2 separate regions of the Homo sapiens genome follow, and region 2 is linked to region 1. Evidence: fine-mapped expression QTL. A gene starts in region 1. The other region holds a variant in brackets. All regions are shown on one strand. Distances are between the middles of the regions.

Region 1 (5,478 bases):
GCTTTAGATGGTAAAACAAATTCCCTCTACAAAAGGAGGAACTAATTGATAAAACTGAAGTTTATCGTATTTATCAAAAGATTTTTAAAACATAGTTATGATAAAAATAACGGGCCGGGCGCTGTGGCTCACGCCTGTAATCCCAGCACTTTGGGAGGCCGAGGCAGGTGGATCACCTGAGATCAGGTGTTCCAGACCAGCCTGGCCAACATGGTGAAACCCTGTCTCTACTAAAAATACAAAAATTAGCTGGGCGTGGTGGCAGGCGCCTGCAATCCCAGCTACTTGGGAGTCTGAGGCAGGAGAATCGCTTGAACTCGGAAGGCGGAAGTTGCAGTGAGCCCAGAGATCCCACCATTGCACTCCAGCCTGGGACAGAGCGAGACTCCGTATCAAAAAAAAAAAAAAAAAAAAGACGATATTCCTATCAGAAGCACACCAAGGTTTCTCTCCAAGGTACAATTACACATCTCCCATACCACCTGTCAGAAACACCAACACAAAGCCTTCTCTACTCTGCCTCAGTTGACATCCTTTAATTTGGGTTTGAGTTTCCAGAAAACTGGCAATCAAATGGCCTTCTTTCTTTCAAATGTGACAGAACAAACTCAAGTTCCGGTTCTCAGGAGCCTAGTCATCCACTGCACAGTATGCGGGGTTTCAGCACAATACTGTCTCAGTCCCAAATGGGAGCATGCACACAGGAGAACTTGTCTCGGATTTAAGAGAGGAAGTGACCCTGAGTCCAGAGGTGAGCTTTTTCTTTTTAAACAGGTGTAAGAGATTAATTCAGTCAACACCAAGCAACACTAAAGATTTGCCAATCAATAATTCTGTGCCAAGCAACTTGATCAGGGATTTGGCCAGAATCCCTTTCGCTAATCTCAATCAGGGCCTTCCCAAAGACATCCTGATTTAGGCCACTCTCATCTAAATTAAGCTTCGACAGTCCCTTGCCTGACAGCAAATAAACAAAATCAAATTATATTCATATGAATAAAATTCTGATAGCTTGACAAAAGGCCCCTTGAAAGATCATTTAGTAAGTGTGAGCAAAAATACAGCTCCAAAGAACAGGAGTTACCATAAAACCATTTTTCAGAAATGTTTAATTCCTACTTTCTTCAACCATACTTTTCAACTGAACAACGCTGTGGCTAACAATCAAATTTAACACACAACAATGAATTCTCATATTATTTTTTCCCGCTACACAAGTATTAACGAATTCTTTAAAACTGCTGAGTCTTCTACTGTGAATTCACTAATGCCTCAAATTAGTCATAGCAGTGGGAAGTGGAGTGCGAGTGTGAACGATGGTTTCTGACACCCGACCCACTAGTGAAGTCCCATCTTCCATACGAAAGCCTTTATTTTTTCTTCCCATCTCACTCACCTAGCTGTTTTCATGCGACATATCAGGGATCACAGATACAACTCTGACCATTGTGTGGACACACTGAAACAATCGCAATCCAAAATCCTCTGTAGATAAACGTTAACTATTTCTCTTTAAAGCTGAACTCCTTTCTTACCCTCACAGTCACAAAGCTTTAAACTGGATGAATACAAAGGTGTTAAGCCGTTCCATCAGAGAGGCTTTTTATTAGATTTATTTTTACCCGTGGAAATACTTGAACATTCTGTAGAAGTAAATATATTCTAAACCTGAGGTCTTTAAAAGAAAGCTCTCAATTAATGCCCAATCAAATCCAGTCTTCAGGTCTCTCTGAAATTAGCTAAGTATGCAGAAACCAGTTGTAATTTTTAAAAGAGCGAAGAGGGAGAAGAAATAAACGACACCAGAACTACACATTCCAGACCAGCAGTTCAAGCACCACTTCGAGAAGGGAAGTAAAGATCAAGCTCGCCGTCTCCCTCGGCCACAGCAGGGCTCCTCCAAGGCTGCCCGCTCCGGCCCGCACCGCGGACCCCGCCGCCCCCGCCCCCTCCCGCGGCCTCCCCAACCCCCGGCCCTGCCGCTTCGCCTTTCTCGCAGCGGGGATGCTCAGGGTGCGACCTCGAAGCACAACCACTGATGGAATTCTGACACCCGAAGAGGACGATTTTTCCAACAGTTTACACGCCTTCGCGGGCACCTTCCCTACTCACTGAAACCCTCACGAAAGCGGTCAACGCACCCAGAGCGGGTTTCCTCGGTCTACGGACGCAGGCAAACAGCGCCACTTAAAAAATGCGCGTCCGCGACCCGGCCCCAGGCGGCAGAGGGAGCAGCGGGCGGCCTGGCGCGGGAGCTCCCCCGGGGCTCGCAGCATCCCTGCCGCGCGCGAAGGCCGGGGCCGCGTCCACCTGGCAACAAAGGCGAAGCCCGCCGCTCGCAGGTGGGAGGCCCGGAGCCGAGGCCCCGGTGCCGCGCGAGGGAGCGTACGGGGTCCGCGCGGGGCCGCCCCTGGAGAAAGCCCAGCCGCGGACTCCGGCGGGAGAGGAGCGCCCTGGCATTGTCCCGGGGGAGGGCGGGGCGGGCGCCCGGGGGCACTGGGTCCCCGGAGGAGGTGGCGGCGCCGCGGGCGGGTTGGGGGCTGGGTCGGCCGAGGCGGACGGCCGCCCCCAGCAGCCCCGACGCCTTTCATTTGGCCTCTGCGGCGGCTGAGGCAGCCCGACCTCCAGCGCTAAGCACTGCGCCAAGCAGGGACGGGCGGGGGAGGGCGCGCCAGACCCGCCGCAGAGCCGGACCCCCGGCGCCGCACCGCCGGCCCGCCCTGCCGCGGACCCCGCTGCCCGCCCGCAGTCCGCGCTCCTCCGGCGGGCGAAGGAGACGACTCTCCGGCGTTCGCCCGGTCCCCACCTCGATGTAGCCGGCCAGCGCCAAGGCAGGCGCCGTGAGCCCCACCAGCAGCAGAAGCAGGAGCCTGCCCGTGGCTGCGGCGGCCGCGGTCCCGGTGGCCGCCATCCCTCGCCGGGTCGCTCTAGCGCGCGGCTCTCAAGCTCACACACTCGGACTCCTCGCTTAGCACACCGCGACCCAGAAGCATCTAAAGCCAGTTCGCCGCCGCCCCGGGGGTTTTACACCAACCGGAACTGACTTCATATTACCACGCCCTCCTTCTGCGGCTCCCAATGCCGGCCCGCAGAACCCCTCAAGACCCCGCCCCCTTGCGGTCCAGACCCAATCAGGAGATGGAAGAGCCTGCTCCTCCCGCCCGGTCCAACCGCGCGCCCCCCGCCCGGCCCCGCCCCCGGCCGCGGATGGCCCCGCCCCCGCTCCGGACCCTGTGGCCGCCAGGCGCGGGGGCGTGCGCGCGGCGGGTCTGGGGCCGCAACCCTGTGGGCGCGGGGCTGGCTCTGGCCTCCGCCCCCCGGCGCGGTTATCTGTCCCTGCTGCGCTGGTCCGTCAGCCTTCAGCCTCCCGATACGGGCACGCCCCGCTCCCCTGCCCCTGCTGGGCATTCTTCAGACTCCTTTGGGTACCGCCCTCTTTTTGATTCTGGAAATGGTTTTATTAAAAACAGGATGAATTAGGAGTCCGGGACGGTCTGCCAAGGGCCGTCCCCCGAGGCAGGGGGAGGACCGCAGGAGGCAGCCATCGTCCTCCCCCGAGCCCTACTCAGGGCGCGCCTCTCCCGCCCTGCTCCGCCCAGGCCTCTCCGCCGGGTCCTCGCCTCTGAGTCCGGCCGCGCTCCGCACCCTTGGCCTCCGGTCTTTAGGCCTCTTGCCGACCCTTCCTTCCCAGCAGTTGCCCAGGCAGGGATAGAGACCAGGGGTGCAAGAACCACGCCGGCCTCACAGCCCAGGCCCCCTTCCTCGTGTGTTTTAGGAAGAGATCACGCCGCTTCTTCGGTTGAGACGCACTAGCGGGAGACCTGCTACTCTGCCTTCCTGCTCCGCGGCATTGCCACTTCAGTAGAGAAAAACGTCCTGCTGCCCCATTTAGCAATTGGCACAGCCTCGCCACCGCCAGGGCTCCGCTGGCCTTGTTTCCTTTCAGTCGCCTGTGAGTTAGGTACTGCCTTCTGAGAGACCTGGACTAGTCCCTTCAGGTTCAACTAAATGCATAACACAACCCTACCCCCAGGACGCTGACAATAGAAAGGAAGAGACTGTCCGCGGAGTAGACGAGTGCGCCTGTAAGAACTCGGGATTTTCCAGCCTTATTCTGCACCACTCTCCCCTACATGCCCAGTTCCCTGTGGGTAAACTGGCTCTGCCCGATTCCTCCAAGACGACACCTTTCCATTTCACAGCCCTTCCTAACACTCTTCTGCGCCTGCAATGTCCTCTCCCCAACATCTGCCTGTTGGAAGCGTTTTCACTGTTCCTCGGCTCAGTCGGCTGAAATATCGCTTCTGATTGCTCAGAGGGATGTTTCCCACTGTGGCACTCGCTCCCTAGTTATTCCATACCTCTCTCAGGTCACTGACAAGACTTGGGTCTGTCATGCCGCAGTGCCCCTCACAGTGCAGTCCTCGATAAATGTTTGCCCAGTGTTATTGAACCCAGTTATCTTGGGTGCTGATACTAGTTCTGGAACTGGCATGAATTTGGCTCTTGCTATGGACCGAATTTTGTCCCCACCCCTAATGTGTGTGCCGAAGCGCTGAACCCCAGTGTGATGGTTATTTGTAAATGGGGCCTTTGGGAGGTAATCGGATTTGGATGAGGTCATGGAGGTAGCAGGTCATGATGGGATGAGTGCCTTTATTAGGAGAGACACCAAAGAGCTTGCTTTTCTCTCACACTCTCTGTCCCCTACCCCCAACCTCAGCCCTCACCTCCCTCCTCCATGTGCGAACACAGCAAGAAGGCCGCCATCTGCAAACCAGGAAGAGGTCCATCACTGAGGGGCCAAAGTGGCACCTTGAGCTTGGACTTCCCAGGCTTCAAGAACTGTGAAAAATAAATCCCTGTTGTTGAAGCCCCCCAGCCTATGTTATTTTGTTGCAGCAGCCGGAGCTGACTGACACAGCCGCATGATCACCGGCAAGTTCCTCCATCGCTTGGGACTCTCTTTTCTTCTCTGTCAAATGTGAATATTAAAACCTGTCTCACTGCACCGCTTTGTGTGATTGAACTTAAAATGAATGTACAATAGTGAAAAGCATGAAGTGACTTAAATGTAAGGGGTAGGAGGGTAAAGCGATGTATTACTAAGTGCAGGTTCATCTGCAAGTATGTGGGAAAAGTATCAAGTGACTACCTAAATCCTCATTGAGTTGTTGAGCCTAGGGTAGGACATGTAGCCCCTCTGGGGCCTGTTACCTCACCTACAAAATCAGGGCCTTGAACTCAGGGAAAAGCAAGTGAGATATCTGAGTTCAGTGGCGTGGATATTCATGCTTTGGAGACTGTATCTTCAAGACTGAGCTTTAATATCATGGGATAGTACAAGGAAATACAGGAACATAATTTAGAGGGCCTTCAGTCTAAACTTAGGTCTTGAAAGAAGTTTATTTGCATTTTCAAGTTATGGAAGGATCGTTACTAAGAGTTGATAGCCCCATTCATCAACATTCTGTACTT
Region 2 (5,257 bases), 92 kb before region 1:
CCTGACCAACATGGAGAAACCCCATCTCTACTAAAAATACAACATTAGCCGTGCATGGTGGTGCATGCCTGTAATCCCAGCTACTCGGGAGGCTGAGGCAGGAGAATCGCTTGAATCCAGGAGGCGGAGGTTGTGGTGAGCTGAGATCACACCATTGCACTCCAGCTGGGCAAAAAGAGCGAAACTCCATCTCAAAATAATAATAATAATAATAATAATAATAATAATAAGGCTGGGTGTGGGGGCTCACACTTGTAGTCCCAGCACTTTTGGAGGCTGAGGTGGGCAGATCACTTGAGCCCAGGAGTTCAAGACCAGCTTGGGCAACATAGCAAGACCCTGCCTCTACAAAAAATACAAAAATTAGTCAGGCGTGCTGGTGCCCACCTGTAGTCCCAGCTACTGAGAAAGCTGAGGCAGGAGGATTGCTTGAGCCGGGAGGTCAAAGTGGCAGTGAGCCATGATTGCACCATTGCACTCCAGCCTGGGTGACAGAGGGAGACCCTGTCTAAAAAAAAAAAAAAACAGTAATAACAACACTTGTCTCTGAGAAGGGTAATACTTGGTCTCAAAGACTAGTAAGACCACATCTTACTTCCCTTCAGCCATGCCTGACCCAGGACTAGGTACACAGTTAGTTCAATGAAGCTTGGCAGGAAAAAAGACAAGCAGCCAGCCATGCTCAATAAATGCTAACGATTATTAGTGTTCATCATTATTAGTATTCTAGACACTCCAGTAATCATTGCACAATATCAGAAGCAACATCATCTTCAGGACCTGGGCTCCCAGGGGACTCTGTCACGTTTCCCTTCCTCTTCCAAAGACAACTTCTCTTTTAAAAGAGACATGAGCCACCAGCCTTGGCAGAACCACAGACCAGAGAAGGAGCAGACATCAGGGAACTTGAGGGCCACAGTGTTCCGAGGGACAGAAGCCACTGGCCACAGCAGTAGGCAGTCTGGTAGTCTGGTTCCCAGGGAGCAGAGTGAGGGTCAGGTAGGGGGAGGGAGCTGTGACTCGTTCTCCTTCCGCAGCCGGTGACAACGTGGCAACAGGCCAGCAAGTCGGCTCGAGCAGGTCCACCCTCTGACCATTTCCACTGCTAGCAGGCGAAGGCAGCCATCAAACTAGGGGCATCTTCTCCTCTTCCTCAGTTTTCTCAACTCCTAAACGAGGAATTTCCAGGTGTTCTCAGGACCAAGGCAGAGGGAAGGCTCCAGAAAGCCCCTGGAGAAGGCAGATTTCCGGTCCACTCCAGCAGCTGAAGCCCCACCTACAGGACAATCCTAGCTTCCTGCTGCTTTCTGCCTTCCCAACCCTCTTCCTCACCCACTGCACACACCTGCCCAGCACATGCTCTAGAGAACAAAAAAGGCAGTTCTCTAAAGTTTTATGTGGGCACAGTGGCTCACGCCTGTAATCCCAACTACTTAGAAGTCTGAGACAAGGAGGATCGATCACCTGGGCCCAAGAGTTTGAGTCCAGCCTGGGCAACATAGCAAGACCCCCATGTCTAAAAAACAAAACAAAATAAAAGTTTAATTTTCTATGGTGGGAGGGGCAGGGGATGAGAAGGAGAAAGGGATATGCAGCTGGCACACATTTTCTTTTCATAGAAAGATATTTCTCCTAGAAGCTGGGTAAAGCAGGGGAATGAAAATCAGAAGGTCTTAGGAAGAGGTCTCTGTTGCTGGCGAGCAGTTCCTTGAATCCTGGGGGCACTTCCCTGTGTTTGGCAGGGCAGGATGGCTCCTCTGTGAGGTCAGGGCCCCACTGACAGCCTGGGTTCTCAGCCTCTCGACAGGCGACCTACTGATACTATACGATCTTCTTGCTTGTCTCAAGTCCCTTTCAACTCAAAAACTCAAGCTGCATCATTTGAACACCACACTGCAACTTACAAAGGGCTTTCATGTAAAGTACCCCTCTTAATCCTTTCAACAAACCTGGAACATATATGTCATCACCATTTTATAGCCACAGAAACCAAGGCTTAGAGATATTGAGTAACATCTCTGAGATCACGTGGCTAGACAAGGCGGCCCCGGGTCTTGGCTGCATGTTACCTCCTGCCACCACATCACAGATGCCTGCAGCCCTAATTTGCTGACCTGGCCCTTCCAGCCTGGGTTAGAGAGATGCCATGTGCTCACCCAGTGCATATCGAGAAGCTAGTACTCATGAGTCAGAATTCAGTTCCCTGTACCCCACACTACCTTGGGTGGTCCCAAGGACAGGGGCTGTGAGTCTAGGGTCTTCCTCACTGCTATTTCCCAGCACCTGGCACAGGCTCAGTCAGTGGGTTACCTAGCAGATATTGTTATGTGAATGAATGCCTGAATGGTTGACAAATTAACAAGCAGGTGACCCTCTGAATAGCCAGAGGTGTACACCCTGGCCCCTAGACATCTGATTTTGGCCACACAACATCCGATTTTTCCAAACTTGGTCTCTGGATGCCTAAGGGATGCTGAGTCTTACCTAGGGCAATTGTGATCGGAAAAGGAACCAGTGGATGTCAAGGCAGCTTCATATTCACCATCAAATACTCAACAGGAATCAAGACCCTCAGGGAGGCAGGCTCCCTGGCTCTCATTAATGGCCATAAGAAGTGGCATCTGTTTCCCTGCTTGCTTGCAGGCAGGGCTCACACCATCCCCAGATGCAGTAACGTGCATCAGGACTCTGAAGGCCACGCAGAACACTTGATGGGAACAGCAGGGGTGGGGCAGGGGCCACACCACCAGCCTTGGGAAGGGGACAGCCAGATACAAATACCACCAAACAAGGGTGCACGGATGGATGCAACTGGGGACAAGGAACCCAGAAACAACAGCACCCTGTGGGCCAGGCTCTGCTGACCCAGATAATAAACCCAGGGGCAGCAGCCACACCTCCCGGCCGGGGATGGACATCCTAGCTGCAAACACACACTACAGGGTGATCCCAGGGACTGGGATTTCTGGTGAGGCCAGGGATGGGAGGAATCTGCAAGACATGGAAATGAGCTTTGGCCAATTTCCTCTGGACACTCCGCCTCACAGCTAACTTTGGCATTCGTCTCTTAGTTTCGCTCTCAAGACTGGATGTTCTTTAAAGGAAACAACCACATCTTACTGGTCTCTGAGAGCCTTCCCTTCACCCATGGGACTAGGTACTGAGTTAGTTCAATAAAGCTCGGCAGGAGAAAAGACAAAGAGCAAGCCAAGAGAATGAAAATGGCAGAGGGGGAAGGAACAGCCCAAGGGCGCAGAGAGCAAATGAGCTTCGCAGAGGAGGAGGAAATGAGCAGGGATGGGGGAAACTAAAGCCAGGGCTTGCAGGTGACAAGACAAGTCCGCTGAATGTGGGATCCTGGGG[GT/T]GAGTGGAAGGTGAGCCCCAGCCTGGCTGCTTGTCAGGTGGTGAGATGGCTCAGAGAGGAGGCTGGACCACACGACCAGGAAGACCCTGCTTTCCCCGTGTGGGCAGGAGAGTCCTAGAAAGGGAAGTCAGGGAGAACAAACTTGGGGTGGGGGCACCGGACTGCCCTGAAATAACAAATTCCAAACAGCAGGTTCTCTGCTGAAGAGGCAGGGAGTCTAGAACCCCAAGTAGGCAATTAGCAAGGACACAAACATAGCAATTACAGCAAGGAAGAGAAGGTGAATCTGCCTCACAGCAGGGCACAGGCACAGCCAGGGGAAGGGCCCAAGCCTTCAGGTCCACTGGAAGCTTTCCTCCTTGCTGAGGGTGAAAAGTGGAGAAAATAGCAGAGCCCAGCCCCAGGTCCTGTCTGTGGTGCAGGCAGCCTCCAAAGCCCCAGCGTCTGATTTTCTGCAAGCTCCCTAGGTCGGGATGCTGCTTGGACAAAAGGAATTGATCTGAGACAGCACCAAAATCAGGCCTGACTTAGGGAGCAACGGCGGAGACTATGGAGCCCAGGGGCACCCGGAAGGAGGGGAGAAAGTGAGGGTTGGCAGGGCAGGGAGGCCATCATTTGCAGAGGAGCAAAACTCTCTGCCACACAGCCCCTGCCTCTCAGCGCCGCCCTGACCTGGTATGCCCTGGCCTTCCAGGAAACCTGGGGGTCTGCCTTGGACAGAGAGGGTAGAGACCTGGCTGCTGGTCCCGCCCGGGCACTACCACCTAGGTGGGTCCGTCAATGAAGTGACTAGCGACCCATCCCCAACTCCATACAGGAACATGTAATCTTTTTGAGATCTTTCAATAGGTCTTTCATTGTTCTTTCTGCCAAAGAAGAGCTTCCTGTTTCGGTACTTCGCAAAAGGCTCAAGACATGTGTGTTCCCACATCCCTTCCCATACAGCCGCCTTCCCAAAGGGCTCCATCCCCTCTCGAGAAGCCCAGGCAAGCCCAACTCTGGAGTTCTTAGCTCCAGCCCGTATGGCAGCCAAAGCCCTGGCCTCCCAGTTGTCCTCTGCGAGGTCCCAAAGCGCCTTTTGACGGGGAAGGAGAGAGACGAAAGAAACTTTCTGCAGAGGCCAAGGATGGCTGAGACTCCAAACCCTCCTGAAATTTCACTTCCTCCCAAATAACCCCACTCCAAGCCCCTGGTTTCTTCCAGATGTTCACTAACAGCGCGAGAGTCATGGAGGGGCCGAGACGGAGCCCCTTTTTTCAACTCAGGGAAAGAAAGGACCGAGGGCGCAGGAAGGCCCAGGGGCTTCCCGCCTCCCCCTGGCGGGGCGCAGCCGGTCCGGTACCAAAGGTCCGGCCAGCCCCGCCCGCCCGCGGCCCGGCACCCGCTGAACAGGAAATTCCACCTGTGCGCCCAGAGCTCGGCCACCGACGGACACGCCAGGGGAGCCGGCCGAGCCCAGCGCCGCGCTGCAGGGTCGGGCGGGCAGGAGCTTCCCAGCGCCCCGGGTCCCCGGCCCGCGCTCACCTCGTGCCGGGAGTTGTACTTGAGTCCCGCGCCGAAGTCCTTCGGGCCCCCTCCGCCCTTGCGGGCCCGATCGCTCCCCATGGTCCCCGAGGCCGCTCGCGGGTCTCACAGGCGTCGTCCCTGCCGGCGGCCGGCTCCCATGGCCCGCAGGGCGCGGGGCGCGGGGCGCAGGCGGCGGGATTCCGGGCAGGCCCAGCGCGCCCGACCGGCGGCGGTGCCCTCGCCCTGGCGCGCTCTCTCTCCCTCTTCCTCTTTCTCCGGCTGCAGCTCCGCTCTCACACTCCGGCCCGGCCCACGCAGGTAGTTTCAGGGTGTGGCCTCGGCCCGCCCAGCCCGCCGCGCTCGCCTGCGCACCTGCCCGGCTCACCT

The links. PIP is the estimated chance that this variant, and not a neighbour inherited with it, causes the effect.
Region 2: its variant is the best candidate, but not a certain one, in a credible set for the expression of APLP2 in whole blood (INTERVAL, PIP 0.71).

The regions. Positions count from the first base shown.
Region 1 is chr11:130,067,411-130,072,888 of GRCh38, reverse strand. APLP2 (amyloid beta precursor like protein 2) reads right to left here and starts at 2,995. Exons shown (of 17, transcript NM_001142276.2): 1 at 2,807-2,995. The coding sequence starts at 2,911. LOC107984432 (a long non-coding RNA gene) reads left to right here and starts at 3,240. Exons shown (of 2, transcript XR_001748444.2): 1 at 3,240-3,425; 2 at 3,776-5,011. RefSeq lists silencers at 2,107-2,566, 2,637-2,766, 3,157-3,386 and enhancers at 3,303-3,803, 3,804-4,304.
Region 2 is chr11:130,159,692-130,164,948 of GRCh38, reverse strand. It overlaps ST14 (ST14 transmembrane serine protease matriptase), which reads right to left and starts at 5,167. Exons shown (of 19, transcript NM_021978.4): 1 at 4,889-5,167. The coding sequence starts at 4,969. RefSeq lists an enhancer at 3,432-3,931 and silencers at 5,019-5,088, 5,169-5,257. The variant GT/T (reference allele first, on the strand shown) is at 3,364.